Linked DNA regions of Homo sapiens. The protein of the gene in region 1 interacts with the protein of each later gene in a biochemical or structural test. Each region holds a gene or a part of one and is shown in the gene's direction. Other genes may lie near its edges. The genes, in order: PRC1, KIF23 and CENPE.

Evidence for each region.
Region 2: the proteins of PRC1 (region 1) and KIF23 form a complex in vitro, tested with the Homo sapiens proteins (one study listed by BioGRID).
Region 3: the proteins of PRC1 (region 1) and CENPE form a complex in vitro, tested with the Homo sapiens proteins (one study listed by BioGRID).

What each region holds. Positions count from the first base shown.
Region 1 is NC_000015.10:90,988,373-90,999,455, reverse strand, and holds the start of PRC1 (protein regulator of cytokinesis 1), read left to right. Parts: upstream 1-4,920; 5' UTR 4,921-5,038; coding exon 5,039-5,049; intron 5,050-10,831; exon of another isoform or gene 10,832-11,083. Other genes in the region: VPS33B (vacuolar protein sorting-associated protein 33B), read left to right, coding at 402-481. UniProt on the Homo sapiens protein: Key regulator of cytokinesis that cross-links antiparrallel microtubules at an average distance of 35 nM. Essential for controlling the spatiotemporal formation of the midzone and successful cytokinesis.
Region 2 is NC_000015.10:69,409,326-69,419,691, forward strand, and holds the start of KIF23 (kinesin-like protein KIF23), read left to right. Parts: upstream 1-5,023; 5' UTR 5,024-5,140; coding exon 5,141-5,151; exon of another isoform or gene 5,152-5,784; intron 5,785-6,668; coding exon 6,669-6,738; intron 6,739-8,057; coding exon 8,058-8,186; intron 8,187-10,366.
Region 3 is NC_000004.12:103,186,408-103,196,803, reverse strand, and holds part of CENPE (centromere-associated protein E isoform 1 precursor), read left to right. Parts: coding exon 1-45; intron 46-551; coding exon 552-641; intron 642-765; coding exon 766-884; intron 885-1,570; coding exon 1,571-1,690; intron 1,691-2,119; coding exon 2,120-2,201; intron 2,202-2,362; coding exon 2,363-2,430; intron 2,431-2,509; coding exon 2,510-2,575; intron 2,576-10,396. UniProt on the Homo sapiens protein: Microtubule plus-end-directed kinetochore motor which plays an important role in chromosome congression, microtubule-kinetochore conjugation and spindle assembly checkpoint activation.

The sequences.
Region 1 (11,083 bases):
TGCTAACTACTCGGGAGGCTGAGGCAGGAGAATTGCTTGAACCCGGGAGGTGGAGGTTGCAGTGAGCTGAGATTGCACCATTGCACTCCAGCCTGGGCAACAATAGCAAAACTCCATCTCAAGAGAAAAAAAAAAAACACGCAAAGTGTCCTGCACAGGAATATTTTTCTCCTGGCCTCAGAATACAACTTGCCATAGCCTTAACTCTGGGCTGCCACAGCAGGGAGCCCAGTTATACCAGTCATAGAAAGCAGTGGTGCCCAAGAGCATGGCACTCACGTCTCTGTCTATAAACTGGTGCTGTGATCCCGTGGGGACTGTGGAACTGGAGAGGCTCTATGGGTTGCCGTTGGGGCCTAAGATCTGTGCTGTCTCTTCTGCTGCTGCATTTGACTCCTTAGGCTACAGGTTCATTTTCCTGACGACAGCAGTCACAAACAGCGCTCGCCTTATGGAGGCCATGAGTGAGGTGAAAGCCTGATGTTTTTCCCGGCCAGTGTTGACATCTTCCCTGAACACATTCCTCAGTGAGATGCAGGCATCTGGCACCCAGCTGCTATAACCAAGTGTCCACCAACTACCTGCTAAGAGCCGGGAGCATGGAACGTGTTGGGATTTAGAGAACATTATCTGAGAAAAGAGTTCACTTCCTGCTCCCAGGATATTTCTCTTTTCTGTTTATGAAGTACAACCCATGCTGCTAAGATGCGAGCAGGAAGAGGCATCCTTTGCTAAATCCTGTTTGAATGTCATTGTAAATAAAGCCTCTGCTCTCAGATGTAATACGTTGGTCGTTCTGGACACGCACTTCCATCTTTATTAGTGAAAGCCCATTGGAGCTTGCTACAGGGGCTTCCTGTGCTTCTTGGCCTGGACTTTGTAGTGGCTCCAGGCCTGGTCTGGTTCTTCCCTGTAAAAATCACTCTACCACTCTGTACCTGAGTTTCCTCTACCATAAAATGAGGGAGATGGCTGAGGTGACCAGCAAGCACGTTTCCAGTTCTAAAATGTTGTGATTCATTACATTTTTGAGAAAATGACTTTGTTGTTTTAATTTAAGGAGGCACTTCAATTTTAAGCGTTTGTTTCTTATTGCAGAATGAAAGATTGTGTGCCATTAGAGCCATTTCAGGCATCAGCAAACAGTGCTCCTATAAATGTGCCAGCACCCTCCTCATTACTGATGCTAGTAGCCTTTCTCTCTCTCTTTACCTTTTAAAAATGATGAAATATAGGCCAGGTGCTGTGGCTCATGCCTGTAATCACTGCACTTTTGGAGGCCGAGGCAAGAGGAACGCTTGAACCCCGGAGTTTGAGACCAGCCTGGATAACATGGGAAGACCCCGTCTCTACAAAAAATAAAAAAATTAGCCGAGGGTGGTGGCACACACCTGTATTCCTAGCTACTGGGGAGGCTGAGGTGGGAGGATCCTTTGAGCCCAGGAGGTCGAGGCTGCAGTAAGCTGTGACCTTGTCTCAAAAAAAAAAAAAAAAAGAAGGAATTACAACCACCTATATTAGTGGCCTCTTTTCAGGCCTCTTCCAACTTGATCTCACTGATGACTATGCTTTCCTTGAAATTGTCTTATTCAGCTTCCATAATACCCTTTCTTTGTCCTCCCACAGTCTCTTAGGTTGTTCTTTGATTACTCCTCTCTGCTCATCCCATTTGCTGACATCTCCCCTCTCTCTGTCCTTTGTTGTCATCCACTTCCAGATCTCAAGCCTTCATCTCACTCCTTAGCGCCACACAAGTATTTCCTACCTGGTCATTCCACAGGCACTTCAAACTCAGCATGTACAAAATAAACTCATGAGTGGAAGCTCCTGTCCCTACTTGAATCCTTTAATCTGCTCTTCTTCCTGTATTCCCAAACTTTGTTCAAATGAGCAAAAAATTGTATTCTTGACCTCAGATTTTTTCTTTCTATGCCCCACCTTCAGCTGGTTCCCTTGTGCTATTGGTTCTTATTTCTAAATGTCTCTAGTTCATCTTCTCCTCACCATCCCTACGACAGAGGTCTTTATTGTCTCTTGCCTGGGTTTTTGCAAGAGTGTGCCTCCCAGCTGCTCATTCTTCCATCTGTTCCCCATTCCACAGTGCTGCCACTTACTAAAAGGAAGAAAGAAAATCAAAACCTGAGTTACTGGATCATCAAAAGTATTCTTCCTATAGAATAATGATCATTCTGGGCCCCGCACGGTGGCTCACACCTGTAATCCTAGCACTTTGGGAGGCCGAGGCAGGCAAATCACTTGAGGTCAGGAGTTTGAGACCAGCTTGGCCAGCATGGTGAAACTCTGTCTCTACTAAAATATAAAAATTAGCCAGCTGTGGAGGCGCGCACCTGTAGTCCCAGCTACTCATGAGGCTGAGGTGGGAGAATCGCTTGAACCCAGGAGGCAGAGGCTGCAGTGAACCGAGATCATGCCACTGGACTCCAGCCTGGGCAACAGAGCAAGACTCTGTCTCAAAAAATAAATAAATAAATAAGAATAATGATAATTCTGTATAAGAATATATTCCAAGGAAAAGGCATTCCTCAAGCATCTAGCTAGAATTTTGAGTGTTATGTCAAGCTAGTGTGCAAGACCAAAGACACTGCCAACAGGGCTGTTAATTCACAGAAAGAATAGGTGGCATCAGAAAAAGATTAAACAGTGGCAAAACATTGCACTTCCATCCAGTAGAAATATATGACCCTGTAATAGGATTTTTTTTTTTTTTTTTTTTTTTTTTTGAGAAAGGGTCTTGCTTTGTCGTCTAGGCTGGAGTGCAGTGGCGTGACCATGCCTCACTGCAGCCTTGACCTCCTGGGCTCAAGTGATCCTCCCACCTCAGCCTCCCAAGTAGCTGGAACTACAGGCTCATACCACCACACCTGGCTAATTTTTGTATTTTTTATAGAGACAGGGTTTTGCCACAGTGCCCAGGCTAAGGTCATATATTATAAACGCGTATTACACAGTGTTTTACATGCTGCGTTTATGCTCTGAATGGATATCTTTGCATCAGTTCTATGACTTTGTTAGCCTCAGCACCTCAGTGTAAAGGACAAGAGAGAAAAAATTGCCTTTTCTTTGGATACTTCATAATGCTGGTGCTAAGAACAAGTATGAAGATCACAAATTTGTGAAGCTTTCTGAAAAGCTCTCCTGTTAATTTAATCAACAAAGAATGCAAGTAAATTTTAAAAGTAGTGCTACCATCTACTCTATTAGTGGTGTCAATGTTAATCACAGAGTGCAAGGAAATTGAAAAAGTGGTGCCTGTCGCCCACTGTGTTGGTGCTGTGAATGTTTGGCATGCTGCTGACAAGTTAAAAAGAACATGGAAGCCGGGCGCGTTGGCTCACGCCTGTAATCCCAACACTTTGGGAGGCCGAGGCAGGCGGATCACCTGAGGTCAGGAGTTCAAGACCAGCCTGGCCAACATGGCAAAACCCCGTCTCTATTAAAAATACAAAAAAAAAAAGTATCCAGGCATGGTGGTGCGTGCCTGTAGTCCCAGCTACTCGGGAAGCTGAGGCACAAGAATTGCTTGAACCCAGGTAGCGGAGGTTGCAGTGAGCTGAGATTGGGCCACTGCACTACAGCCTGGGTGACAGAGCGAGACTCCGTCTCAATTAAAAAAAGTAAAAAGAACATTGAAAGCACTAATGAAGTTTTTCTGAAAATAAGAAAAATATGGTTCTGAAGGTGAAGCAAACAAGCATCCTTTACCTTTAGGGAAAAGGCATATGAAGAGGATTCACTTAAGTTACAGTTGGCCAATAAACACGAAAAATGTGCAATTTCAATTATAATCAAGTGCCAAACAAGGAAATGCCAGTATTATTATTTTACCTACAAAATGAGCAAAGATGTTTAGAAGTACAATAGAATTCAGCCCTGCTGAGGGTAACAAAAGGAGGGTACTTTTCCGGTGAGGCTTTGTGCAGAAGGCAAATTAATAAAGGGAGCATTCAGTAATTACACCTCTAGGAATCAGCCGTACGAAAATGCAGGATGCATTTATAAATACATACATACACAAAGATTTATGTATGAAGATATTCAGCCCAGCCTTATCTTTTAAATTATCATCTAAATATCAATAGCAGAATGGGCGAGATATCTACACACCAGGATTCATGCCACCATGCCACCATGAATCACTGGGAAAAAACGGTGATATATAAGCATTTAGGGATGTAACATGTTCATCGAGGAAAGGAGGCTACAAAAGTAATGTCTATTTTGAGTTTTAAATTTTTCATGTAACGATTTAGAAACTCATCTAATTTGATAACGTGACTTAGGCAAATCATTCAAATCTTTTTGCGTTTCCTCTGCAATGGCGATTGTGGAGGTTAAATGGGATAACTGGCGTTGAAACGTTCCAGGCCCATGAGCAGGACTCAATGTTCCTTCCCTTCCCCTTTAGTGTATGGCTTCTTACATCTGGGGAAGAGTCCCACCAAAGATCGATTCCAAGCTTCGCTTCTTGGATGAGCGAGGGAAACTAGGCGCTAACTTACCTATTCACCCCCGCGCCCGTTCCCGGCAGCCGGGACTCAGGGAAGCCAGGTAGCCGCGGTGCTCTCAACTCCCTCCCCGCCCGCGCACTTCGAATCCAAACTGCGCGGGGCGAGGCGGGGCGGCGCTCCGATGAGGTAGCTGGCTTGGGAGAGGAGTCCCTTGAGGCTGCCGCCAAGCCAGGGAAGCGGGAGGCGCAGGCCACGCCCGGCCACTCACAGACAGTGACGTCATCCCCCGCCGCCACTCCGGCGCTTCCCAGGCCCTGCTCGCGAGTCCCCACCCCGATTGCGCACCCGCGACTTCAGCCCGAGGGGCGGGGATTTTCTTGGAGCGACGGGACGCGACGCCAATCGCGACGAGGCTTCGCCCCGTGGCGCGGTTTGAAATTTTGCGGGGCTCAACGGCTCGCGGAGCGGCTACGCGGAGTGACATCGCCGGTGTTTGCGGGTGGTTGTTGCTCTCGGGGCCGTGTGGAGTAGGTCTGGACCTGGACTCACGGCTGCTTGGAGCGTCCGCCATGAGGAGAAGGTGCGGGTTGCGGGGAAATCGAGGGGACGCGGGAGGGAGCGACGCTCGTTTCGGCTGCGGGGCCTGTTCAGGGGTGCGGGACCCGTGCGGGGTCCCGGGCCTAGATCGTCACGGCAGTCGGCGCCGAGGGAGGCCGGGGGCGCTGAGGGGCAGGGTCTGGAGGCGGCGAGCCAGTGCGAGGGCCGCGGCGGTGAGACCTGACGCGCTGTCCGCCGGCGGCCGCAGGTGCCCGCAGGCTCAGACGCCCGGGTGGGAGCCGAGCGCCGGTGCCCGGACGCGGCAGGGTAGTCGAGGCCCGGGGCCCGGGGCGGCCTCCACCCAGGCGGTCAGCGCTGGCGCTCGGACCCCACCCTCCCCGCCCGCAGCGTCTCAGGTGCCGCTGCTTGGCGCAGATGACTCGTTGTAAACCTTCTGTGGTCGTGGCTTTTCTTTAAAGCTGTTAAGTTTATTTATCGTTGTTTTTCTTTGTTTTATTCTTTTTTTTTATTTTTGTGGAAACGCGGTCTATGTTGGCCAGGCTGGTCTCGAACTCCTGGCTTCAAGTAATCCTGCCACCTCGGCCTCCCAAAGTGTTGGGATTACAGGCGTGAGCCACCGTGCCCGGCCCGTTGTTTTTCTTTATATCTGGCCAGCGGTGTTAACGTTTTGTTTGAATTGGAAAGATAGCTTTGTTTCTTTGCAAGTTAAGAAACGGATTATGGAATTCTTTTCCGGTCGTTTTAATAACTTCCTAGGCGGTGTTGGGGAGGGACTGTCCGACTTGAAATCGGGACCAGACGGTGACACTGCCACTTACCAACCTTGTGACTTCCAAATATTAACTTTATTTTCTAAAAGTTGTGGATGCAGTTTTCTGATGATACAGCGTTAAATAATGTGTAGTTTTTGGTGGAACTGATTGTTCTAAGGCTTTGTAAGATTCTTCATTTCATGATCACTAATTCTGATCAGTCTTTTTAAAATGCTTGCCCTCAGAATAATGAGAATTGAGTGCCAACATGGTAAAACCTTGTCTTAACTAAAAATACAAAAATTATCTGGCCCTGGTGGCGCGCCTGTACCCCCAGCTTTTCAGGAGGCTGAGGCAGGAGAATCGCTTCAGCCTAGGAGGCAGAGGTTGCATGAGCCGACATCTCGACACTGCACTCCAGCCTAGGCGACAGAGTGAGACTACGTCTCAAAAAAAAAAAAAAAAGTCCATTAACAGTTTATGAATTATGTAGGCATCTCCTCTATCAAGGGATTGAATGAAGCAGGAGAAAACTTACCCTTTAATGTTGGTTCCAGGCTAATGGATATAATTAACTTTTTTTTTTTTTTTTTTTTTTTTTTTTTTGAGACGGGGTCTCACTCTGTCGCCCAGGCTGGAGTGTAGTGGCGAGATTGCTCACTGCAGCTTTGACCTCTGAGGCTCAAACGAAACTCTGGCCAGAATTAATTATGGTTATCGATCCCCGAAACAGGTTGAACTGGAGATCAACAAAGCTCCTTCTCTGGAATGCTAAGAAAAAATAGGGCAGTGGATCAGTGAAGGCTGCCTGAAGGTAGAAAATAATTTAAGGACCACTGTGAGATACCTTCCAGTCCAGTGATTTATGTTCAAGACTGGAAAAACTGACTCATTTTACAACCTTTTTGTCCTTGAGTGGTAGTCTTTGTATGCACTCTTGATTTTTTTCAGTGAATCTAAAAAAAAAACTCAGACTTGCTGCTTTTAGGGGATTATCTGAAACAATTTAGCCAGGGAGTATTTAAGTGTATCATGATAATTGTTCATAATGATTGCTCTGAAGCATCTTAAGATCATACAACTTTTTTGAAATGTCACGTTATTCATTCAAAAAGACTTCTTGGGCCTGGCACAGTGGCTCACACCTGTAATCCCAGCACTTTGGGAGGCCAAGGTGGGAGGATGACTTGAGCCCAGGAGTTCAAGACCAGCCTGGGCAACATAGCAAGACCCTGTCTCTATTTAAAAAATAATAATTTATACTAAAAAAGAAAAGAAAAATACTTCTTGAATGTTTGTTATATACAAGGAACCATTGCAAGTGTTGGGGATATAGCAGTGAGCAAAAGTGACATCCCTGCCCTCACAGAGTTTATATTCTAATAGCAAAAGAGGAGTGTAATAAATAAGTTAGTCTTAAATGGTGGTAAGTGCTATGTAGAGAAATCAAGAGGTTAAGAAGTACTGAAGGTGTAGGAAGGGGGGTTGTGGTTTTAAAGAGATGGGTCAGGAAAGGCCTCCCTGAGAAGGTGATCTCTGAGCAAAGACCTAAGAAGGAAAAGGGTGAAGCCATGCAGCATGGGGGAAAAGAGATCTAGGTAGAGGAATCAGCAAATCCAAGTGCCCTAAGGGGAGATAGCGCCTGGTATGTTCCAGAAAGAGCAAGGAGGTCGCTGTGACAGGAATAGAATGAGCACTGAGGTCAAAAGAAATGGCTTTCAGATGGAATGGGGCTCCATAGGTCTTTGGAAAGTCAGAGGCTTTTCCTTAGAGTGAGATGGCAAGTCGTTGGAGGGTTCTGAGTAGAAGATTAGGACTTGGGGCTCCTGTGTTGACAATGGACTTAAGGAGGCCAGCTTCGAAGCCGGGAGACCAGTTAAGAGGCCCCTGCCATACAGCAAGAAGTTGGTGGTGGTGACCTGGACCAGGGTGGGGGTGGTAGTGGTAGCAGCAGAGGTCAGGAGGAGTGAGATTCTGCCTGTCTTGTGTAGATAATGCTAATGGCGGGCATATAAGAAAGAAGTGTCAAGGATGATACAAGATTTAAGTTTAAAAAAAAAATTAAGTTCAGTACAATTTGAATGTTAGGAAGAGTGAGAAATGTTAGTTTTTAATTTGAAAATGATCCTCTTACAGGAAGTGTCTCTAACTAGAATAATAATAATGGGTGTTTGGTAATTCCAAACACCCATTTCCAACAGGCCAAATAAAATACGTTATATATTAGTAAAATTTTTATTTCTTTTTTTTTTTGGAGACAGTCTTGCTCTGTTGCCCAGGCTGGAGTGCAATGGCATGATCTCAGCTCACTGCAACCTCCGCCTCCTGGGTTCACCGGGTTCAAGTGATTCTCCTGCCTCAGCCTCCTGAGTATCTGGGATTACAGGCACCCACTACCACGCCCAGCTAATTTTTGTATTTCTAGTAGAGATGGGGTTTCACCATGTTGGCCAGGCTGGTCTCGAGCTCCTGATCTCAGGTGATCCGCCCGCCTTGGCCTCCCAAAGTGCTGGGATTGCACACGAGCCACCGCGCCCGGCCATAGTAAAAATCTGTAAGTTTTTCAATTAAGTCACAAATCAAAAACATTTCAGATTATGGGCCGGGCACAGTGGCTCACGCCTGTAATCCCAGCACTTTGGGAGGCCGAGGCGGTCGGATCACGAGGTCAGGAGTTTGAGACCAGCCTGACCAACATGGTGAAACCCCGTCTCTACTAAAAATACAAAAATTAGCCGGGCGTGGTGCCGTGTGCCTGTAGTCCCAGCTACTCAGGAGGCTGAGGCAGGAGAATCGCTTGATCCCAGAAGGCAGAGGTTGCAGTGAGCTGAGATCACACCATTGCACTCCGGCCTGGGTGCCAGACTGAGACTCTGTCTCAAAAAAAGAAAAAAAAAAGAAACCAAAAATGTTTTAGATTATGTGCCAAGATGTTTTTAATAACAGCTTTGAGGTATAATCCACATACCATACAATGTACTTAAATTGTATATTATAATTCAGTGATTTTTAGAATATTCAGAGTTGTGCAATCATCACTGCAATCAATTTTAGAACATTTTTATCACCCCTTTAAAATCCCATTAGCAGTCAATCCCCTTTCACCCCATGGTCCAAATTCTCCCCAGCCGCAACTACAAATCTACTTTTCGGCTAGGCAAGGTGGCGCACACCTATAATTCCAGCACTTTGGGAGCCCAAGGTGGGAGGACTACTTGAGCCCAGGAGTTCAAGAACAGCTTGGGCAACATAGAGAGACTCTACCTCTTAAAAAAAAAAAAAAAATTATTTATTTATTTATTTATTTATTTTATTTTTTATTTTATTTTATTTTATTTTTTGAGATGGAGTCTCACTCTGTCACCCAGGCTGGAGTGCAGTGACGTGATCTCAGGTCACTGCAACCTCCACCTCCCGGATTCAAGCAATTCTCCTGCCTCAGCCTCCCGAGTAGCTGAGATTACAGGTGCCCACCACCACACCCAGCTAATTTTTGTATTTTTAGTAGAGACGGGGTTTCACCATATTGGCCAGGCTGGTCTCAAACTCCTGACCTCGTGATCCGCCGGTCTTGGCACCCAAAGTGCTGGGATTACAGGAGTGATCCACCGCACCCGGCCTAAAAAAAAATTTTATTGTTTAAGTTAGCTGGGTGTGGTGGCTCACATCTGTAGTCCCAGCTACTCCGGAGGCTCAGGTGGGAGGATCACCTGAGCCTAGGAAGTTGGGGCTGCAGTGAGCCATGATCATGTTACTGCACTCCAGCCTAGGTGAAAGAGGGAGACCCTGTCTCAAAAAACCATACAAACCCCAAATCTACTTTTTACCTATTCTGGATATTTCATAAAAACGGAACCGTAGCTCTGGTCTTTTGTGACTTGCTTCTTTGACTTAACATAATGTTTTCAAGGTTTATTGCCAAATAATATTCCATTGTATGCCTATATACTACATTTTATTTACCCATTCATAAGTTGATGGCCATTTGTATTTTTTTTTTCACTTTTTGGCTATTATAAGTAATGCTGCTATAAACAGTTGTGTAGTTTTTGTATAAATGTGTTTTCATTTCTTTTGGGCAAATACCCAGTAATAAAATTGCTGAGTTGTATGAACTCTGTTAAACTGAGGGGCCGGGTGCAGTGGCTCATGTCTGTTATCCCAACACTTTGGGAGGCCGAGGTGGGAGGATTGCTTGGGCCCAGGAGTTCAAGACCAGCCTGAGCAACATGGCAAACCTTAAAAAAAAAAAAAAAAAAAAAAATTAGCCAAGCACGATGGCACGTCTATGGTCCCAGCTACTTGGGAGACTAAGGTAGGAGAATTGCTTGAGCCCAGGGCGTTGAGGCTGCGTTGAGCTATGATCACACCACTGCACTCCAGCCCAGGTGACAGTGAGGCCCTGTCTCAAAAAACAAAAAATCAATTGAGGAACTACCAGACTATTTTCCAAAGAGGCTGTACCGTCTTGCATGCCCACAAGCAGTGTCTGAGGGTTCTAGTTCCTCTAGATTCTCACCAATACTTTTTGCTATATATTTTTTTTTATTATACCATCCTGTTGGCTATGAAGTGGTTTTGATTTGCATTTCCCTAATGACTAATATTGAGCATCTTTTCATGTGCTTATTGGCCATTTTTATATCTTCTTTGGAGAAATGTCTATTCAGATTCTTTGCCCATTGTGCTAGATTTTTTTACTCAGAAAAACGATCACTTTACCTTCTAGATGTGTTACAGAGATAGGCAGCCCTGCTTGTAAACCTTCGTCAGGATCCAGAGTGCATAATACCTCTATTAGGTTAGGTAGGTTAGGAGCATAGGACCCTTTGGGAGGAATTCAGGGCCATTCATTTTATATCTATTGAACAACTACTGTGAGTTAGGGTGTGGTAAAATGAAGATGAATAAGATGTGGTGGTCCTTGCCCTTGAGTTTATGGTCTACTAGGGGGCTTGGGGGGAATGGTGAGTGACAAGTCCACAGCTCTCCAGAGGAGGTGGTGGCATATAGACGGAACTGAATGTACAAAGCGCGGTGGCATCAGAAAATGAGAGTTGCATGTGGTTTATTGAGGGGCATTGTTCAGGAAATGCCCGGGAAGTTCAGCTGGCCAGAGACCTGGGGAGTGTCAAGTGGGAGAGATTAGCAGACAGACTCGGAGAGAGGTTTTAGAAGGCCTTTCTACAGAAGGTGGTTGAACTATTTCCTGAGGGCAGTGGAGCCTTTGAAGGGGAGTAGTTAAGCGGGGATCTGATGGGATTTATTATGAACAACTAGCTGTTATGTGGAGATTGGCTGGGC
Region 2 (10,366 bases), about 22 Mb from region 1:
GTTACAAATGGCCTGGCGAGAGAGATTCATGGCCTGGGAACCTGAGACAATGTTTCTAAGGCCACTGAGTGACCAGCAGGGCCTGGGAGGGAACAGTGTGCGGAGCATGTCCAAGATCCCAAGGCAGTGCTGTCTCCATTTTACCACCTCCCCTCAAACACTCGGGGCTTCAGCAGTTTCTGGTCATTGGTGTTTACTGGGTTCCCACAGCTGGACTTGCTTATCTGGGTGTTTGGATTAATATATGATTTCGAATTTGTGTAGTGTCAGCCCCTCTTCAATGATTTGGATAAGACTCGCCTGGTCCAATTTAACAGTTTCTAATAAAGTTAAACTTACCGTAAGACCCACAATCCCACCCAAGAGAAATAAAAACACACCTACATAAAGACTTTTACACAAATAATTATACCAGTTTCATAATCTCCAGAAAGTAGAAACAACCTAAATGTCCAACTGGTGAATGAATAAATTGTCCTGCATTCATACAGTGGAATAGACTCAGCAACAAAAAGGGAACAAATTACTGGTACATGCAACACATTGATGAATATCAAAGCATTATGCTGAGTGAAAGAAAAGACATTCTGGAAAAGGCAAAAGTATAGGGAAGAAAATCAGAAAAGTCGTTGCCAAGGCCTGGGAGTAGGGGCAGCCCAGAGAATTTTCCACTGTGATGGAAATATACGTTTGATTGTGGTTACAGCACACTATATATTTGTCAAATACACATAACGATACAACTAAAAAGGGTCCATTTTACTGTATGTAAATTATACCTAAAATACTTGACTTTAGAAAGAAAAAAGCCCCTCAGTTCTCTTCTCCCCACCCTCCTACGCGCACTCCTGATCTGGATCTCTAATTCTATGGTAAAATGCAAATCTTTTAATGGCTATAGGTAGCCCTTTGCTATTTTTGAATAGAAAAATGATGTAATTATTTGGTAGTTTTAAGGAAATTAATAAGCCAGAGAACTTTAATACAGAAGTGAGGGAGGAAGAAGAAACTGGCCTGAAGAGAAGCTGGAGGTGGTGCGATGTAACTGGGTCCTCAACTGGAGCGTTCTTTGAAGGGATGATTCATTCATCCCTTCAAGCCATGTATGGGGCACCTGCACTGCTAGGCACTGGGCATGCAACGATGCCATCTAGTGAGGCTGTGGGGATAAGCCAGTAGAGGAGACAGGAATGAACAGTGACTGCCAATTGGAATGTGAGTGCTGAAACAAGTCAACAGGTGCAGTGAGTGGGAAAGGGCAGTTTTGGGGGCGTGGGGGCTGTACCACGGGGCCCAGTATCCACAGCAGGGTAGCTGGCAGATCTGCAGAGAACTGAAGGCAAGGCATTGTCAGAGGAAAGGAGGGAGGAGAGCGTGACAGCACAGAGAATGGCGTGTGAGCCCAGCGTGTTCAGGGCACTGCAGTTCAACATGACTAGAGGGGACAGGGGGCAGTGATGGGTGATGAGCCCCAGAGGAAGCGTCTCAGGGCCCTGTGGTGGGTCTCCAACAATGGGGAACCACTGCAGAGTTTCATATAGGTATGTGACATAATCAGATCCATGATTTAGAGATGAGCAAAATGGAAACTGAATTGGAAAGTGGCAGCAGAGAGGCCTGTTAGGAGACTGCTGTCTTTATCAGACAAGAGAAGATGGTGGCTGAGGAGACAGAGAAAAGTGGAGCAGTTTGGAGGTTTGGCTACTTAGTAGGTAGAACTGTTAAGATTTAGTGATTGAATATTGAGACAGAAGAAGAGAGAAAAGCTAACAATGTTGCTTTAGACTCTGGCTTGGTGGATGCCATCCACTGAGAGGGAGCAAGTTTGGGAGAAGAGATTAGAATGTGTTAGATGTGAGATGCTTGTGGGATATCGAAGTGGAGAATCCAGAAGACAGCTGGATATATGGCTCTGGAGCTCAGAAGAGCAAACATGAATGGGATGTGAAGCCATATGAGTGCTTGAGAGTGCCTAGGGAAAAGGCACACCTAGTGACCAGCTCTAAACCCTGAGCCCCAACATTTAAGGGAGAAAAAAAGAACTCACAAAGGAGACTGAGAAAGAAGGGCTAGACAGCTAGGAGAAAAAATAAAGGCATGGGAAGAAAGGAATGGGCAACATTTTTTAGTGTTGTTAAGAAGCCAAGTAAGACAAAAGTCAAATAGATTTAGCATCAAGGAAGTGGTAATTTTGGTGACAAGAGTTCCAATGGAGTCTGAGGTAGAAGCTAAACTGAAGAGCAACTAGGATATAAGTAGTCAGCAACCAAGCCCAATTCCTAAATGATAAAAATTCCAAACTCTAGGCCAGGTGCGGTGGCTCACACTTGTAATCCTAGCACTTTGGGAGGCTGAGGCAGGTGGATCACTTGAGGTCAGAAGTTCAAGACCAGCCTGGCTGAGGCAGGAGAATTGCTTGAACCCCGGAGGCGGAAGCTGCAGTGAGCCGAGATTGCGCCACTGCACTCCAGCCTGCGTGACAGACTCCGTCTCAAAAAACAAAACAAAACAAACAAACCAACAAAATACCAAACTCTAGCTTGACAACAAAGTCCTAATCATTCAAAGACTTCAACATAGGAAGCAAAGCAATAAAAGCACTAGGAAACAAAAAATGAGAAATAAAATAAAAAACTCAGAATGGATGTATTTTTCCAGTATGACACAAAACAGAAGCCATAAAAGAAAAGACGGATTAATCTGTCTACCTGAAATTTTTTCCAAGCTGTCACAAAACATATACAAATAAAAATAACCAAAATGTGAAAAATAAAAGTATTTAAACTCGTATTTTGGATGAGGACCAATTTTTTTTTAATATAAGAACTTTCACAGATCATTAAGAAAAACGAACAACCAATAGAACAAAGAGGCAAAGAATATGAACACAGTTGATAGAGAAGGAATCAAAAGGGCTCTAAAATATATGAATAGACAACATTTATCTGAAAATAAATGAAAAATTTAACTACATGTTTTTTCTCACCAATTGATATGAGATATCAATAGATTGGTAGCTACTGAAAAGTTTGATAACACTTTGAGAATTGTGGAGAAATAGGCACTCTCATACAGGCTGGTGGGAGTGTACATTTGGACAGCTTTTATGGAGAATGATTTGCAATATCTGTGAAATGTTACACATATGTATACTCTTTGACTCAGCAATTCTGTTTCTAGAAATGTTTCCTACATATTTACCTGCATTGTATAAATTTCCACATTCATTCACTATAGCTGTATCTGTAATAGGAAAAGTTGGAACCATCCTAATGTGCAATGTAGGGGTGGAAAAGGTGTGATACTTTTCTTTACCCATCTTAAGGGTCACAGCTGACACTACCATAACAAAAAACAGGTTAGCAAGATAAATGGATAACTTATTGAATCACAGTTTTATGGGATGTAAGTGCCTTCAGAAATGAAGACCCAAAGACCCAGGGAAAGCTGTCCATTTTTATGCTTAGATGAGATGAAGAATGGACAGCTGTGTAGAAATGTGATTGTACAAAAGGAGTATGATCTAATAGTAACAGACTGAAGGAGGAATCCAGCAAGTCCTGTCTGTTCAGATTCTTCTTGGCCTCTCTGTGCAGCTTTCCTTCTTCCTGAGTGTAGGGCAAGACCCTTTTGGAACGAGGGTCTTATGACAAGGTACATCAAAGAATGTCTTTATGGCCAGCTCTTACACAAAAAGGTGGGGGAAGGCTAGATTAATATTTCTAGGTTTTTCTAGAATAATGTTTCTGGCTTGCTTGGGAGAAAAGGGGTTCTAGTTTCCATGACCCGCCTTGGGGAACAGAAATTCTGGTTTCTATTATTTGCTTTAGGAGACACAGAGGGGTGGGAGACAAGAGGGCAGGAGAAAGTCAGAGACAGACTTTGCTTTTAAGGCTTCTCTGAGGCACTTTCAGTCTTCTTTAGTTCAAAGCACTCAGTGTGCCAAAGAGCCATACTCTGGGGTGTCGTTTCCTGAGCACCAACAATATTGGCCAAGGACATTGTGACTATCCTTACCAGTGCTGTGGTCCTTTAGGAAGTTGAGAAGGGGCTAGAGTTCCATGAGAGCCCAGGTGTAGATGTGTATTTGGTAGTCATCGGCTTAGGGTCAAAGACAGAAGTGATATAGAATCAGTTCATCTAAGGCAAGAGTAGGTTCAAAAGGTTGCCCCTTAAGGGTAAGGACCAAATTTTATTCATCTCCGTAAGGCCAGGATCAAACACAATCAAGATTTGATAAAACAGGCCGGGCGCAGTGGCTCACGCCTGTAATCCCAGCACTTTGGGAGGCCAAGGTAGGCAGATCACCTTAAGTCAGGAGTTCTAGACCACCCTGGCCAATATGGTGAAACCTCATCTCTACTAAAAATACAAAAATTAGCTGGGCGTGGTGGTGCGCGCCTGTAATCCCAGCTACTCGGGAGGCTGAGGCAAGAGAATTGCTTGAACCTAGGAGGTGGAGGTTGCAGTGAGCTGAAGACTGCAGTCCAGGCTGGGCGACAGAGCAACTCCACCTCAAAAAATAAAAAAGGAAAAAAAAAAGATTTGATAAAATAATGTACATATAGGACAGAGCTGGAGGGAAACCCAGGAAAGGTGAATCAGAGAGAGAAAAGACGCCAAGATAATGTGGTGACTTGGGAGCCAGAGAGACGGAGCCTGAGACTTGGAGCAGGGCACAGCACAGGAATACAACACTTTTCACCAGAACGACATTCCGACCTCTGAATCAACCCTGGAAAGGCCCTTCCATTGAACTTCTTGTGATGGAGGAAAAGAAACCCTCAGTTTCGTCATCGCAAGGCGGAAGAGTTTAAATACCATACCTCAAGATCTCCCTCCAGCCCTGACACGCGACTCCGCGGCCCTTTCAGCGTCGGTCGCCTAGGAGACAAGCGCCACTTCCGGCAGCGAAGTCACTTCCGCGGAGGTCCTGCCTCTCCCTGCGGACGGGCGCTGATTGGCCCGTTTGAAATGCGCCAGGCGGGAGCTCACCTGGGCTCTTAGCGTCGCCGCCGGCTTCGCAGAGCACCGCGCCTTAGCCGCGAAGTTCTAGTTCTTGCTGCCGGTCCTAACGTCCCGCAGTCTTCGCCAGCCAGCCGTCCCGCATGCGCGTTTGGGCGGCGTGGAGCCTGCTGCCATGAAGTCAGCGTGAGTACGAGGCCGCCGAGCAGGGAGAGAGGGCGGACGGGGGCCGAGGCCTCGGGGCTGGGGGCAGGCGTCTCCACTCAGGCCGCGGCCGTACGCGGGCAGCGCGGACAGCATCCCGCCCGGTGCTGCTGCGGCCGCGACCCCAAAGTGGGAACCTCCACGTGTGGCCGCTCCGCGGGAGCCTGGGCGCGGAGACCCCTGCCGCGTCGCCCCCCGCCGCCCCGCCTGGGCCTCCAAGGGGCCAGGAAGGGTCGGCCCGGAGCCGGGGTTGTTTTACGCCGCACCCGGTTCCCGGGGGCGGGGCAGTCCTCCTCGGGGTCCCGGGACAGCCTTTCCCTTCTCCCTCGCTGGCTGCCGCCGCCTCCAGAGTGCAGTTGGCCAACTTAGTGCGGGTCGGAGGTGGTCTCGTGTGTGGAGCAGAGCGAGTGTGCTGGGCATTGGTTAGATGGGCTCCGTTTCTGGAGAGCCCTGGCACCGGTGATCGCCGCTAGCTTTTTTTTCAGCCGAGCACCCTGTCCTTGAGGCCGAGCCCATCCGCTTACACAGGCCAGTTACTTCTGCTGTATTTTGTGGCCGCAGAGAACCTCCGCCCACATTCCTAAGCTAATATTTTCGGCGCAGCATCATTCCTGGGTAAAGAAATATTTGTCGTGCAAAGGAGAGGATTGGCTTTATTACCATTTAGGGAGTCGTTTGCAAAAGACAACTTGTTTATTAAGAGGCCGAAGTCAAAATCTTTAGATGAAAAAAATTATATATAAGAAATATACGTTGAGTTTAACTTAAGCCCACCACAAAGTATTTTGCACTGAATAACACGAATTTGCTTGTGTTTCATCTGAGAATATGTTTGGAAAAATATTTTTAAACTACAGTCGAAGCCAATAATCTTACTTAATTTTAATGTGTTAAATGTATATCTAGCCTATAGATAAATGTGAAGGGAAAAAGATGAGATGCTAGAGAAATGGTGAAATCAATCAAAATAACTTTTTGATTGCCCCTACTTAAGAAACCAAGAAATTGGCAGTTTGGGACCAGATTTTGTTTGGAGACAAAGAGTAATGTTTTGAGCATTCAATGACTGGTTGTTCCTTGAAAGTACAGGCGTAACCCTTGACGAAAGAATGGTTTCCTCCATGTGCATTTTTATAGTGTATTGAAGTTAATCGCTTGTCAGTCTGTAAAGTGTGGGCAGTTATAATTTGTAGTGCCTCTGTTAAATTGTTGCTCAAGAAAATATGCAAGCCATTTTAAGTATAGAACTAATCAGAGAATAAGTAGGTAGCTTTGGTACCAAAAATGTATTCTAAAGCAAATTTTAATTACTTTTGGATTACGCATGCCACAAACACTCTGCTACTATGATTATTAATGTTATTTGGGATGCAGTGTTTTGCAACTGCTAAGGGATAATTTACAGATAACCTAGAAAGATTGTATAAGTTTTAGGTGAGGCTTTTGTATTCGTGTTGAACTGAAAAAAAAGTTATTATTATTTTTTAATCTATGACCAGGAGAGCTAAGACACCCCGGAAACCTACCGTGAAAAAAGGGTCCCAAACGAACCTTAAAGACCCAGTTGGGGTAAGGTATCCCTGTAAATTTATGTGTGGTGTTTAAGAAACTTATCTCTTCAGTCCTTTCTGTCTTATGTGTATGCTTGGAAGGGAAAGAAGAAGACATGTGGAAGTATAATCAAAGAACATTTAGTTAAATGGATGTACTACATTGTGTAAAACTAGTGCTAGCTGTGAAATTTTCTCTATAAGATTAATTAAATTAGTCCAGTAAAATGAAGTCTTTGGTTGTCAACTGCATACCTTCTGTAATTATAATTTGGAGAGTTAGATAATTAAAAATCTCCAACTGGGTTCATATTCATCCCAGAGAATATGAACTGAGTTCATGCCATACAGTAACTGATGGCATGAGGAGAGTTCCAAACTTCTTGGGACCAAGTTTAATTCAGTTAAATTATGAAGAAAAAATGAAGCAGGCAAAAAGAATAAGAATTTTAAAACAAAACAACAAATGGCAAACAAAAAGGGTTCTTTGCTCTGAGGTATTTTAAATCTATCCCTCGTTGCCACTGGAGTGGGTCCCTGGCTCTGAGTTAAGGGAACCGGGTGCTTTGCACACAGCTGAATGAGTTTTCCTCAAGCCCCCTCCCCTGCTTTCAAAAATGTCTCTGTAGGCTGGGTGCGGTGGCTCACATCTGTAATCCCAGCACTTTGGGAGGCTGAGGCGGGTGGATCACCTGAGGTCAGGAGTTCGAGACCAGCCTGGCCAACATGGCGAAACCCTGTCTCTACTAAAATTACAAAAATTAGCTGGGTGTGGTGGTGGGTGCCTGTAATCCCAGCTACTCGGGAGGCTGAGGCAGGAGAATTGCTTGAACCCAGGAGGTTGCAGTGAGCTGAGATCATGCCATTGCACTCCAGCCTGGGTGACAAGAGAGAAACTCTGTCTCTAAATAAATAAATAAATAAAAATGTCTTTGTATATTAAATGTTGGGTTAAGCTGACAAGTTTTTAAATTGACATCCATTTCCAAGAAATTCTAACAGTTTTAAAAATCTCGTGTGACATGTTGTTGACTTTTAGAGATATTAGTAGTAGTATAACTATTATTTGTGTACAATATAATAGTGAATACACTGCAATTTGATTTTTATTAAAATTTATTTTAATTTTGTGTGTATTTAAAGTATTCTCATATCTAATACATACTTGTATTTGTCAATCTCAAGTAGCAGATTTTAATTTTCTTAGCCCTTGGAGATACAGAGCTCTTAAATTGAGAGACTGAATGTTTGTTGAATGAATGAATGAATGAGAAGCTTAAGTGAAAAATCAGGCAAAAGGTCGAACTTTCTTCTTAAAGCACCTTCCTATTTCTTCAGGTATACTGTAGGGTGCGCCCACTGGGCTTTCCTGATCAAGAGTGTTGCATAGAAGTGATCAATAATACAACTGTTCAGCTTCATACTCCTGAGGGCTACAGACTCAACCGAAATGGAGACTATAAGGAGGTAATTCTGATTTGGACCAAGTTGTTTTTACTCAATATGTTGTTTCCTGAATGACTTCTAGATTTTTAGATGTAACAAAGTTCATTTGTGAGCCCACATTTTCAAAAGACTTATTTACTTCATTATAACCACTGTATCTAAAGTGTTTTTGACTTCTGGGATGCACAGACATACCTTTGGTATGCTGGGGTTAGAGGATTGCTTTTAGCAGATAATTTCTTACACTGAGTATTATTGTTTCTTAGAGCATGTGTTAGGGATGATTTAATGTGGAATGATACATGATTGTGCTAGGCAGTTTTATATATACAACTTGATGTGTGGAAATGAAAATAACATTTAATAATAGACATTGTTTACTTGCATCAACCTCCTATGCAGTGTTTTTATTTTTAGTAAAGTTTTGAGTCAGCTCAAAAATATTGTTTAGCAAATGTGCTAAGCTAATAGTTGGAGGGTGGAAGGAGATTAAAAAAAAGAGCATGACATACTCCTTGCCTTTAGAAAGTTTATAACTTAAGATATATGGTAAACAAATAATTCTCATATAAATAAGACAGAAAGTTAGATGTGCTAAAGATGAGGGGACCGTGGGAATGCAGTAGGATTAATTCAGGCTACCATTTCTACTTCTAGCTGTCACTCACTCTTTTGTGCCTACTATTCCTGTGAAATTGCTCTTCAGAAGACTACCAGTGGCCTCTTTGCTGCTAAATTTGATGTATACCTCTTCATCCTCATTTTAACCTGTTTGTCAGCAGCACTCTCCTGTCTCCCCCTCCAGCTCTCCTTGTATCTCCAGCTGAAACCTTTTCTCTGGCTCTCAACATTCAACCACTTACTTGATATCTCTGCTTGGATGTCACATGTGCATCTCAAATTTTACATGCCCAAAAAGGAGTTCTTGATTTTTCTTATTCCCTCTCTAAATACTTCCTCCCTTGTTTTCTTCTCAAGGAATGGCACTATCGTGTGTCCAGTTGCTCAAGCCAGAAACCTGGTACCTACCTTTTACTTGCCTCTCCTTATAACTAGTTCATTAGTAGCTCCTATCAGTTATATTCCAACATGTGTCTTGAAACTGTCCTTTCATTTCCATCTCCACTGCCACCACCCTAGTCTGAGCCCCATTATTAATCACTGAGACCAGAGCTACTGTAATGAAGGAGTAGCTTTTTTATTTTTAATGCGTCACAGCTGAGACTTTTGTACAACTTGTGCTAGATGGAACTGCCCGTGTGAGTTAGACAATAGGGAACTAGTTCATAATCTCTTCATAGAGATGAGCCTATTGAATACATGCTGAAATACTGATAATTGAGCAGTGCCAGATGGAGGCTCATGCCTGCAGTCTCAGCACTTTGGGAGGCCAAGGTGGGTGGATCACCTGAGGTCAGGAGTTCAAGACCAGCCTGACCAATATGATGAAACCCTGTCTCTACTAAAAATACAAAAATTAGCCGGGCATGATGACGTGTGCCTGTAATCCCAGCTACTCAGTAGCCTGAGACAGGAGAATCACTTGAACCCAGGAGGCGGAGGTTGCAGTGAGCCGAGATCGCGCCATTGCACTCCAGCTTGGGCAACAAGAGTGAAACTCCATCTCAAAAAACAAACAAACAAAGAAACAAACAAACAAAAAACAACTTTCTAAACATTTAAGTAGTCTGGTAACCAATCTCAGACTGGCATTGGTTTGCTGAGTGTGCTTTGGGTATCATTGACAAGACTTCCAAAGCCCAACTGCCTCCACTTGGAATCTTCTCTAATCCATTTCTACAGAGCAGACAGTGATCTTTTAAAACATAAAATCTCATTTTCCTGTTCAAAACCTTTCAAAGAATAAAATCTTTGAACAGACAAAATCCTGCTTCATCCGTCTCCCATCTGTCTCTCCACCTTCATTCATCTTTTAGTATTCATCCAATCCTTTGAGTTTCTTGGATAAGGCAGAATCCTGGCTGTTAGCTGTTGCCTTAACCTGGACTTCTCTTTTTCTGGGTCTTAGCATGGGTCATCGTTGGGTTTCAGCTTAAATATCACCTCCTCGGGTTGTATAGACTACCCAATCAGAAACAGCACCCCACAACCCCTCTCCCCTGGTCTGTACTCTGTATGCCTCCTTTACATTACTTAACCACAATCTATTTGTTTACTTGTTTATTGTCTTTCCTCTACCA
Region 3 (10,396 bases), on another chromosome or scaffold:
ATAATGTCATTTATCAAGTTGATGGAAGTAAATCCTTCAATTTTGGTAAGCTTATAATAGCATCAAAAGTTACCTTGTTATCCTTTTGCTATTAAAAGTACAAAAGGCTTATCAATAATATTAGATTTGTCACTAAAGATTAGACTAAGCCTTCTATAAACTGCTTCACTGGAAACAAAATTGTTTATCCATCATGTATTTAAGTAAGGTAACCAATTGGCATTTAAAACAGTTATAATCACAGTTATCTAATTTGCATCTAGGTAGATTCCAGACCCCCATGTGCAAACACTATACCTTATTGCCTCTTGAAAGAACATAGAAAAGTTGACTTGTAGTGTATTTTTTGTGTGTGAAAATGAACTCATTTTACCTTAGGGAAGGGTATTTTCAGAGAACCAAAAAGTTGAAAAAAATACTGTGTCTTAAATAGTTGATCATCCTACATTCTGACAGTTTTACTTTTGGGAATAATTACTAATTTGGAATGAAAACACAGTGGACTCATTTGATTTAACTTCTGTGTTGTTGTTGTTGTTGTTGTTGTTTAGATCGTGTCTTTCATGGTAATGAAACTACCAAAAATGTGTATGAAGAAATAGCAGCACCAATCATCGATTCTGCCATACAAGGCTACAATGGTTTGTATTCACTCAATGCTGCAGAAACATTTTAGTCTTGGGCGTCTGTGCAACAAGCATGCATAGTTTTACCCATTATAGGTTTGTTTTTAATCTTTGCGTATGTGTGTTTTGTTTTTTGCAGGTACTATATTTGCCTATGGACAGACTGCTTCAGGAAAAACATATACCATGATGGGTTCAGAAGATCATTTGGGAGTTATACCCAGGGCAATTCATGACATTTTCCAAAAAATTAAGAAGGTAAGTAACTTAACTGGATTTCTAGTACGTACAGGTAAAACTAGTAAAAACTGGGTACCAGTCTTAGTGTATTTCTCTTGTAAAGATGAAAGGAAGTAGATTTACAGTTATTGTTTGATTATCCATGGGGAAAGAAGAAAGGCATAGCATAGATTCACTTTTATCTCCACAACTTACTTTATAAAGCTTAAAGTTCTTTTATTCTTTCTCTTGAATTCTGCAACAATAATACTCTCAACAAAAAGTAGGCATTAAGGAACAAGAAAATGTTATCAGAATGGTTAGCTCCACCTAACCATTTAACTATCAGTGATTATAAAGGAACAGTAGAAAGTGGATGTAGGTAAAAAAAGAAGGGAAGCAGAAAGCCAGAATAGGCAACCGAGTTAGTTGGTTTCAAATTAGCATTTTTATTAAAATAAGAACATCTTTTGAGAGGGTTTTATTTTGAGCCTAGAGTTTGAGCCTAGAGTTGGTGTTCTCCCAGCTTTATGGTACTTCACTTTTCATTATTTCTGTAACGATGCTTTTATATTTTTGTGTTCATTATTTTGTCAACAGTAGAACCAAGGGGTTTCTTAGTTTGTTTTACATACATTTTACCTCTTTAAGCACATGAGCATTTAGCATTAGGTTTTCACAATTGGATGCTTCCTGGTGTTTTTATATAATTTTTTTTCTTCTAGTTTCCTGATAGGGAATTTCTCTTACGTGTATCTTACATGGAAATATACAATGAAACCATTACAGATTTACTCTGTGGCACTCAAAAAATGAAACCTTTAATTATTCGAGAAGATGTCAATGTGAGTAGCAGACTTAAGGGAGCTTTAAAATTGACTGACTTATTGAGATTATTGTTCTTGAATGTTTACCTTTAATTTCTATAGTTTTTAAAGTGTCTCCTATTTCTATAGTATGTGAGGGTTTTTTTGAAGTATTTATATTCATCTTTTAAACAATATGAATAGTTTTAAAATACTGACAGCTCTAATATTTTGGTTTAAGTGTAAAAATAGCAAGTTGGAAGTATCAGGTTAGAATTTGTTGTGCTTTGGTATGTGAAATAAATTGTGGGTATTCATAGAATTATTTGTTACATTCCTACAGAATTATGGTTCCATTTGCCACTTTTAACTTTCACAAATGAATTCTATAATAGTTTGCACCTTCTTTTGAAAAGCAAACTTGTGACTTCTATTTCTCTAATCTTTCCATAATTAAACTTGTTTCAGAGGAATGTGTATGTTGCTGATCTCACAGAAGAAGTTGTATATACATCAGAAATGGCTTTGAAATGGATTACAAAGGGAGAAAGTAAGACTTTATGCTGTATTTCTTTAGAACACTTGTAAAAACTATCTTTTCAATCAAGCACGTTTGGACCTCAAATCATACTTTTTTAAGTTAAAATAAAAATTATTGTGTTTCTATGGATTTTATTATATATGCAGCTGAAATATAACTCATTTTTACAGAGAGCAGGCATTATGGAGAAACAAAAATGAATCAAAGAAGCAGTCGTTCTCATACCATCTTTAGGATGGTAGGTAATTCTATCTATCTGTTAGATCTTTCCAAGTAAGAATGCACTAATTTTTCTACAGCTTGCCTTTTCTATCTAGATTTTGGAAAGCAGAGAGAAGGGTGAACCTTCTAATTGTGAAGGATCTGTTAAGGTATCCCATTTGGTGAGTATTAATGAACCATAATAATGTACTGTATGGGCCAAAACAAAATTTAATTTAGTTGCTGGATGTTTGGTTTAATAAGAACTGTTAACTAAACTAAATGTGGGAGGAAATCTACAAATTGTCTGCTTAGTCTTGTCAGTATCATCAAATTCCTAGCTAAAATGTCGTAGGAAAAATTCAGAGGATCTTTCTTCCTGTTATGTCATGGTTGCCATCTCCTAAAATTTAAATGTCAGGGCTATAGGGTTATAGGAATTGATGTTTTTTCTAACCACTAATGCAGTAGAATTTTTTTCTATACACATTTAACACTTTAGATCATCTTAGAATTTGAGGGTCTTTTTGTAAAATCTCAGCCAATGTAATTTAGACTTATGTGATCAACAAAAATCTAGGTTGGATGGTTAAAAAGTAATCACATTACTTTAGGTTTTACTTAAGTACAACAATAAAATATATTTTGTATTGTAAACGTAGTACTTTAGACTGTAAATCCATTGAGGAGTGATACTGCATTCATCCTGGTAGCCCCAACACATTATACCTATTTTATGTCTAATATAGATTTGCTGAATAAGCGAATATATGCATTATGCAAACATTCCTATATTCCACATTAGTAAACCTTCACTTCCTTCTTTCCACACTAAATTATTGCTGTTTCTTTCTTGCTCCTTTTCTATCTTTTACCATATTGCTTTATTCTGCATTTTTAGGGCCTAAATTCTTTAGCTTGATGTGGGATATGATTTAAGATTATTTGATTAGAAAACTTCAGGGAAAAAAGCAATCTATAATATGTTTATTCATTTTCAGATTTTATAAAATTAGATTATTAATTACTTAATATTCAATCCTAATTTCACCTTAGCTATTTTGCTATAAAATTGTATAACTTATTTTAGTAGACTTTAATCTTGTTTTAATTTAACAATAAAAAACCAAACCCTAACCTCTTTAGTTTTCTCATCCAAGACTGTGATATTTCATATAATTTTAACTTTTAATAATTTAGCTTTAATACTCTTGGCATATTCAGTGATCTACTTGATGATTTTCCTCATGTTACGTGATGCTCTGTCATTTGTGTTCCATCTGTTCCAACCCTCCAGCCTACCCACTTACTCTAAGAATCTTCTTGGAAAGAAGTCTCTAAAGAGTCATCTCTGTCTCTTTAGAGGTGGCTCTTTTCTGATTATCTCCTGGCCTTGGTGGGATGATAATATCCAGTTTCTCTTAGCTGTACTCCTCTGTTTTCTACCCTGGCTTCTTTTTCCCTACCCTCCTAAAAAAATAATTAAAAAAAAAAAAACTTGGAGGTATTCTGTGACGTTTCTTACTCAAGTTCTTGCTCTCAAATGTTCTGTCATCATTTCCATGTTGATGACTGCCAAATATTTTACCTATAGTCTCTGAATTCTAATTCATGTCTTCCTAAAGATGGTTATAATTGTGTCCCATCATTATCTCAAACTTTAATATGTCTAAAACGAAACTATTTTCTTCCTACCATAGTGAATATTCCTTATTTCCAGTAAAACCAGCATTATCCTAGCTGCCTAAGCTGGAAACCTAAGTCAATTTTGACTCATCTTTTTCTGCCTTTCTCTTTGTCCACTTGTCCCATTTCTTACTGATCCTACCTTTAAACATTTCCATGGGTGCTACACTCATTTACTTTCTCATCTCTCTTGAATTACTATGTCAGTCTCCTGGAACCTTGTCTCCATGACCCTTGTCTTTGTTTCTTGAAGTCATCATAAGGATTTCGAATATACTAACCATTGCTTTTGTATATCACTTCCTGGGGCAAGATTTGGCCACTCTTAACCAATCTAACTTTATTTCCTTCTGCTCTACATGAACTCCTCCCTCATAGATTGGGCCTCTGAGTATCTTTGAATATGAATGCTTGTTCTCATCTTTAACCTTCACTCATGCTGCCTTCATTACCACTTTGCCCTTTTATTATGTATCTGTGTCATCTGTAGTGGACACTGTGCAAGAAAAATTAGCCTCCTTAACTGGTAATACATATTTACCTGCCTAGTCTCAAAAATCTCCACAGAGAGAAATAACGTAAAGCTTTGACTTTCTTTCAAATCACTCACAATATTTACTAAGTTGTTATTGTCTTCTGAGCATGGTGTTGGGCTCTGAGATTAAAAAAACAATAAACAAGACACCCCTTCACTGCTTCTCTTACAAGCAGTCTCCTCTGCCACCTCCCTAACCCAAGCTGGTATTATCTCTCACCGAGATTCCTGCCCCAGCTGCCTGATGGGGCTGCCTGCAGCTGCTCTTGCCCCTTCCCAATCCATCCTCCACCCAGTAGTCATAGTGGATCCATTGTGAGAGTCATTGCTGAGCTTTATGCAAGGTTCTCTTTTTTTTTCCAGTTTTACGTTTTTTTATTTTTATTTATTTTTTTATTATACTTTAAGTTTTAGGGTACATGTGCACAACATGCACGTTTGTTACATATGTATACATGTGCCATGTTGGTATACTGCACCCATTAACTCGTCATTTACATTAGGTATATCTCCTAATGCTATCCCCCCCTCCCCCCACCCCACAACAGGCCCCGGTGTGTGATGTTCCCCTTCCTGTGTCCACGTGTTCTCATTGTTCAGTTCCAACCTATGAGTGAGAACATGCGGTGTTTGGTTTTTTGTCCTTGCGATAGTTTGCTGAGAATGATGGTTTCCAGCTTCATCCATGTCCCTACAAAGGACATGAACTCATCATTTTTTATGGCTGCATAGAATTTCATGGTGTATATGTGCCACATTTTCTTAATCCAGTCTACCATTGTTGGACATTTGGGTTGGTTCCAAGTCTTTGCTATTGTGAATAGTGCTACAATAAATATACGTGTGCATGTGTCTTTATAGCAGCATGATTTTATAATCCTTTGGGTATATACCCAGTAATGGGATGGCTGGGTCAAATGGTATTTCTAGTTCTAGATCCCTGAGGAATCACCACACTGTCTTCCACAATGGCTGAAGTAGTTTACAGTCCCACCAACAGTGTAAAAGTGTTCCTATTTCTCCACATCCTCTCCAGCACCTGTTGTTCCCTGACTTTTTAACGATTGCCATTCTAACTGGTGTGAGATGGTATCTCATTGTGGTTTTGATTTGCATTTCTCTGATGGCCAGTGATGATGAGCATTTTTTCGTGTGTCTTTTGGCTGCATAAATGTCTTCTTTTGAGAAGTGTCTGTTCATATCCTTCGCCCACTTGTCGATGTGGTTGTTTGTTTTTTTTTTTTCTAAATTTGTTTGAGTTCTTTATATATTCTGGATATTAGCCCTTTGTCAGATGAGTAGATTGCAAAAATTTTCTCCCTTTCTATAGGTTGCCTGTTCACTCTGATGGTAGTTTCTTTTGCTGTACAGAAGCTCTTTAGTTTACTTAGATCCCATTTTGTCAATTTTGGCTTTTGTTGTCATTGCTTTTGGTGTTTTAGACATGAAGTCCTTGCCCATGCCTATGTCCTGAATGGTATTGCCTAGGTTTTCTTCTAGGGTTTTTATGGTTTTAGGTCTCACATTTAAGTCTTTAATCCATCTTGAATTAATTTTTGTATAAGGTGTAAGGAAGGGATCTGGTTTCAGCTTTCTACATATGGCTAGCCAGTTTTCCCAGCACCATTTATTAAATAGGCAATCCTTTCTCCATTTCTTGTTTTTATCAGGTTTGTCAAAGATCAGATAGTTGTAGATATGTGGCATTATTTCTGAGGGCTCTGTTCCTTTCCATTGGTCTATATCTCTGTTTTGGTACTAGTACCATGCTGTTTTGGTTACTGTAGCCTTGTAGTATAGTTTGAAGTCAGGTAGCATGATGCCTCCAGCTTTGCTCTTTTGGCTTAGGATTGACTTGGCAATGCGGGCTCTTTTTTGGTTCCATATGAACCTTAAAGTAGTTTTTTCCAGTTCTGTGAAGAAAAGTCATTGGTAGCTGATGGGGATGGCAATGAATCTATAAATTACCTTGGGCAGTATGGCCATTTTCACGATATTGATTCTTCCTACCCATGAGCATGGAATGTTCTTCCATTTGTTTGTATCCTCTTTTATTTCCTTGAGCAGTGGTTTGTAGTTCTCCTTGAAGAGGTCCTTCACATCCCTTATAAGTTGGATTCCTAGGTATTTTATTCTCTTTGAAGCAATTGTGAATGGGAATTCACTCATGATTTGTCTCTCTGTTTGTCTGTTATTGGTGTATAAGAATGCTTGTGATTTTTGCACATTGATTTTGTATCCTGAGACTTTGCTGAAGTTGCTTATCAGCCTAAGGAGATTTTGGGCTGAGACGATGGGGTTTTCTAGATACACAATCATGTCATCTGCAAACAGGGACAATTTGACTTCCTCTTTTCCTAATTGAATACCCTTTATTTCCTCCTCCTGCCTGATTGCTCTGGCCAGAACTTCCAACACTATGTTGAATAGGAGTGGTGAGAGAGGGCATCCTTGTCTTGTGCCAGTTTTTAAAGGGAATGCTTCGAGTTTTTGCCCATTCAGTATGATATTGCCTGTGGGTTTGTCATAGATAGCTGTTATTATTTTGAGATACGTCCCATCAATACCTAACTTATTGAGAGTTTTTAGCATGAAGTGTTGTTGAATTTTGTTAAAGGCCTTTTCTGCATCTATTGAGATAATCATGTGGTTTTTGTCTTTGGTTCTGTTTATAGGCTGGATTACGTTTATTGATTTTTGTATGTTAAACCAGCCTTGCATCCCAGAGATGAAGCCCACTTGATCATGGTGGATAAGCTTTTTGATGTGCTGCTGGATTCTGTTTGCCAGTATTTTATTGAGGATTTTTGTATCGATGTTCATCAGGGGTATTGGTCTGAAATTCTCTTTTGTTGTTGTGTCTCTGCCAGGCTTTGGTTTCAGGATGATGCTGGCCTCATAAAATGAGTTAGGGAGGATTCCCTTGTTTTGTATTGATTAGAATAGTTTCAGAAGGAATGGTACCAGCTCCTCCTAGTACCTCTGGTAGAATTCGGCTGTGAATCCATCTGGTCCTGGGCTTCTTTTGGTTGGTAGGCTGTTAATTATTGCCTCAATTTCAGAGCCTGTTTTGGTCTATTCAGAGATTCACTTCTTCCTGATTTAGTCTTGGGAGGGTGTATGTGTCCAGCAATTTATCCATTTCTTCTAGATTTTCTAGTTTATTTGCATAGAGGTGTTTATAGTATTCTCTGATGGTAGTTTGTATTTCTGTGGGATCGGTGATGATATCCCCTTTATCATTTTTTATTGGGTCTATTTGATTCTTCTCTCTTTTCTTCTTTATTAGTCTTGCTAGCGGTCTATCAATTTTGTTGGTCTTTTCAAAAAACCAGCTCCTGGATTCATTGATTTTTTGAAGGGTTTTTTGTGTCTCTGTCTCCTTCAGTTCTGCTCTGATCTTAGTTATTGCTTGCCGTCTGCTAGCTTTTGAATGTGTTTGATCTTGCTTTTCTAGTTCTTTTAATTGTGATGTTAGGGTGTCAATTTTAGATCTTTCCTGCTTTCTCTTGTGGGCGTTTAGTGCTATAAGTTTCCCTCTACACACTGCTTTAAATGTGTCCCAGAGATTCTGGTATGTTGTGTCTTTGTTCTCATTGGTTTCAAAGAACATCTTTATTTCTGCCTTCATTTTGTTATGTACCCAGTAGTCATTCAGGAGCAGGTTGTTCAGTTTCCATGCAGTTGAGCGGTTTTGAGTGAGTTTCTTAATCCTGAGTTCTAGTTTGATTGCACTGTGGTCTGAGAGACAGTTTGTTATCATTTCTGTTCTTTTACATTTGCTGAGGAGTGCTTTACTTCCAACTATGTGGTCAATTTTGGAATAAGTGTGATGTGCTGAGAAGAATGTATATTCTGTTGATTTGGGGTGGAGAGTTCTATAGATGTCTATTAGGTCTGCTTGGTGCAGAGCTGAGTTCAATTCCTGGATATCTTTGTTAACTTTCTGTCTCGTTGATCTGTCTAACGTTGACAGTGGGGTGTTAAAGTCTCCCATTATTATTGTGTGGGAGTCTAAGTCTCTTTGTAGGTCTCTGAGGACTTGCTTTATGAATCTGGGTGCTCCTGTATTGGGTGCATATATATTTAGGATAGTTAGCTCTTCTTGTTGAATTGATCCCTTTACCATTATGTAATGGCCTTCTTTGTCTCTTTTGATCTTTGTTGGTTTAAAGTCTGTTTTATCAGAGACTAGGATTGCAACCCCTGCCTTTTTTTGTTTTCCATTTGCTTGGTAGATCTTCCTCCATCCCTTTATTTTGAGCCTATGTGTGTCTCTGCACATGAGATGGGTTTCCTGAATACAGCACACTGATGGGTCTTGACTATCCAATTTGCCAGTCTGTGTCTTTTCATTGGAGCATTTAGCCTATTTACATTTAAAGTTAATATTGTTATGTGTGAATTTGATCCTGTCATTATGATGTTAGCTGATTATTTTGCTTGTTAGTTGATGCAGTTTCTTCCTAGCCTCAATGGTCTTTACAATTTGGCATGTTTTTGCAGTGGCTATTACCGGTTGTTCCTTTCCATGTTTAGTGCTTCCTTCAGGAGCTCTTGTAAGGCAGGCCTGGTGGTGACAAAATCTCTCAGCATTTGCTTGTCTGTAAAGTATTTTATTTCTCCTTCACTTATGAAGCTTAGTTTGGCTGGATATGAAATTCTGGGTTGAATATTCTTTTCTTTAAGAATGTTGAATATTGGCCCCCACTCTCTTCTGGCTTGTAGAGTTTCTGCTGAGAGATCAGCTGTTAGTCTGATGGGCTTCCCTTTGTGGGTAGCCTGACCTTTCTCTCTGGCTGCCCTTAACATTTTTTCCTTCATTTCAACTTTGGTGAATCTGACAATTATGTGTCTTGGAGTTGCTCTTCTTGAGGAGTATCTTTGTGGCATTCTCTGTATTTCCTGAATTTGATAAAACGTAATGAACAAACCTCCAAGAAATATGGGACTATGTGAAAAGACCAAATCTACGTCTGATTGGTGTGCCTGAAAGTGACAGGGAGAATGGAACAAAGTAGGAAAACACTCTGCAGGATATTATCCAGGAGAACTTCCCCAATCTAGCAAGGCAGGGTTCTATTACTCCCTTGCATAAAGCCCTGCAATGGCTTCTCATTGAATATAAACATTTCAGAGTTTTAGATCTCACTTAAAAAGTCCTGCATAATCTGGCCCCTGTCTACTTCTCTTATTCTGTCTTTTCCTGTCTTCACTTCACCAACTGTGCCACACTGCCTTTTCTATTTTTTTGAACACACTGAGCACATTCTGCTTTGTGACTAAGTGTTTTGGCTATTCTTTTTGTCTAGACTACTGTTTCCCTTGATCTTTTTGGGACCAGCTTCCTCTTCTCAGGTCATTCAGATCGCAGCTTAATGACAAGCCTTCCACTGCTATCCAGTCCTATGAACCTAAAGCTACTGGCCCCTTTTCCAGCTCTATTTAAATAATCTCTGTTACACTTATCACAACATGTTTCTTATTTGTCTTTTTATCTCTTCTTACCAGCCTCCTCCTCTATGTAGAATGTAAGCTCCATGAGAGCAGAGACCTTATTTATTTGTAGCCCTAGCACCTGATGTACTTCCTGGAGCATAATAAGCAGCCACTTCTTTTCAGTAATATTTGTGAAATGAAAGAGAGGTCCAGCTCTTAAAGATGCCACAGTAAAGTCATGGTATTGCTACAGCATAGTACAGCTAGCATGCATGACTAGCCCAACAAAATAAGTGCTATAAATGTAAGTCGTATCTATAAGTCATGTTTATAAAGATTTCTG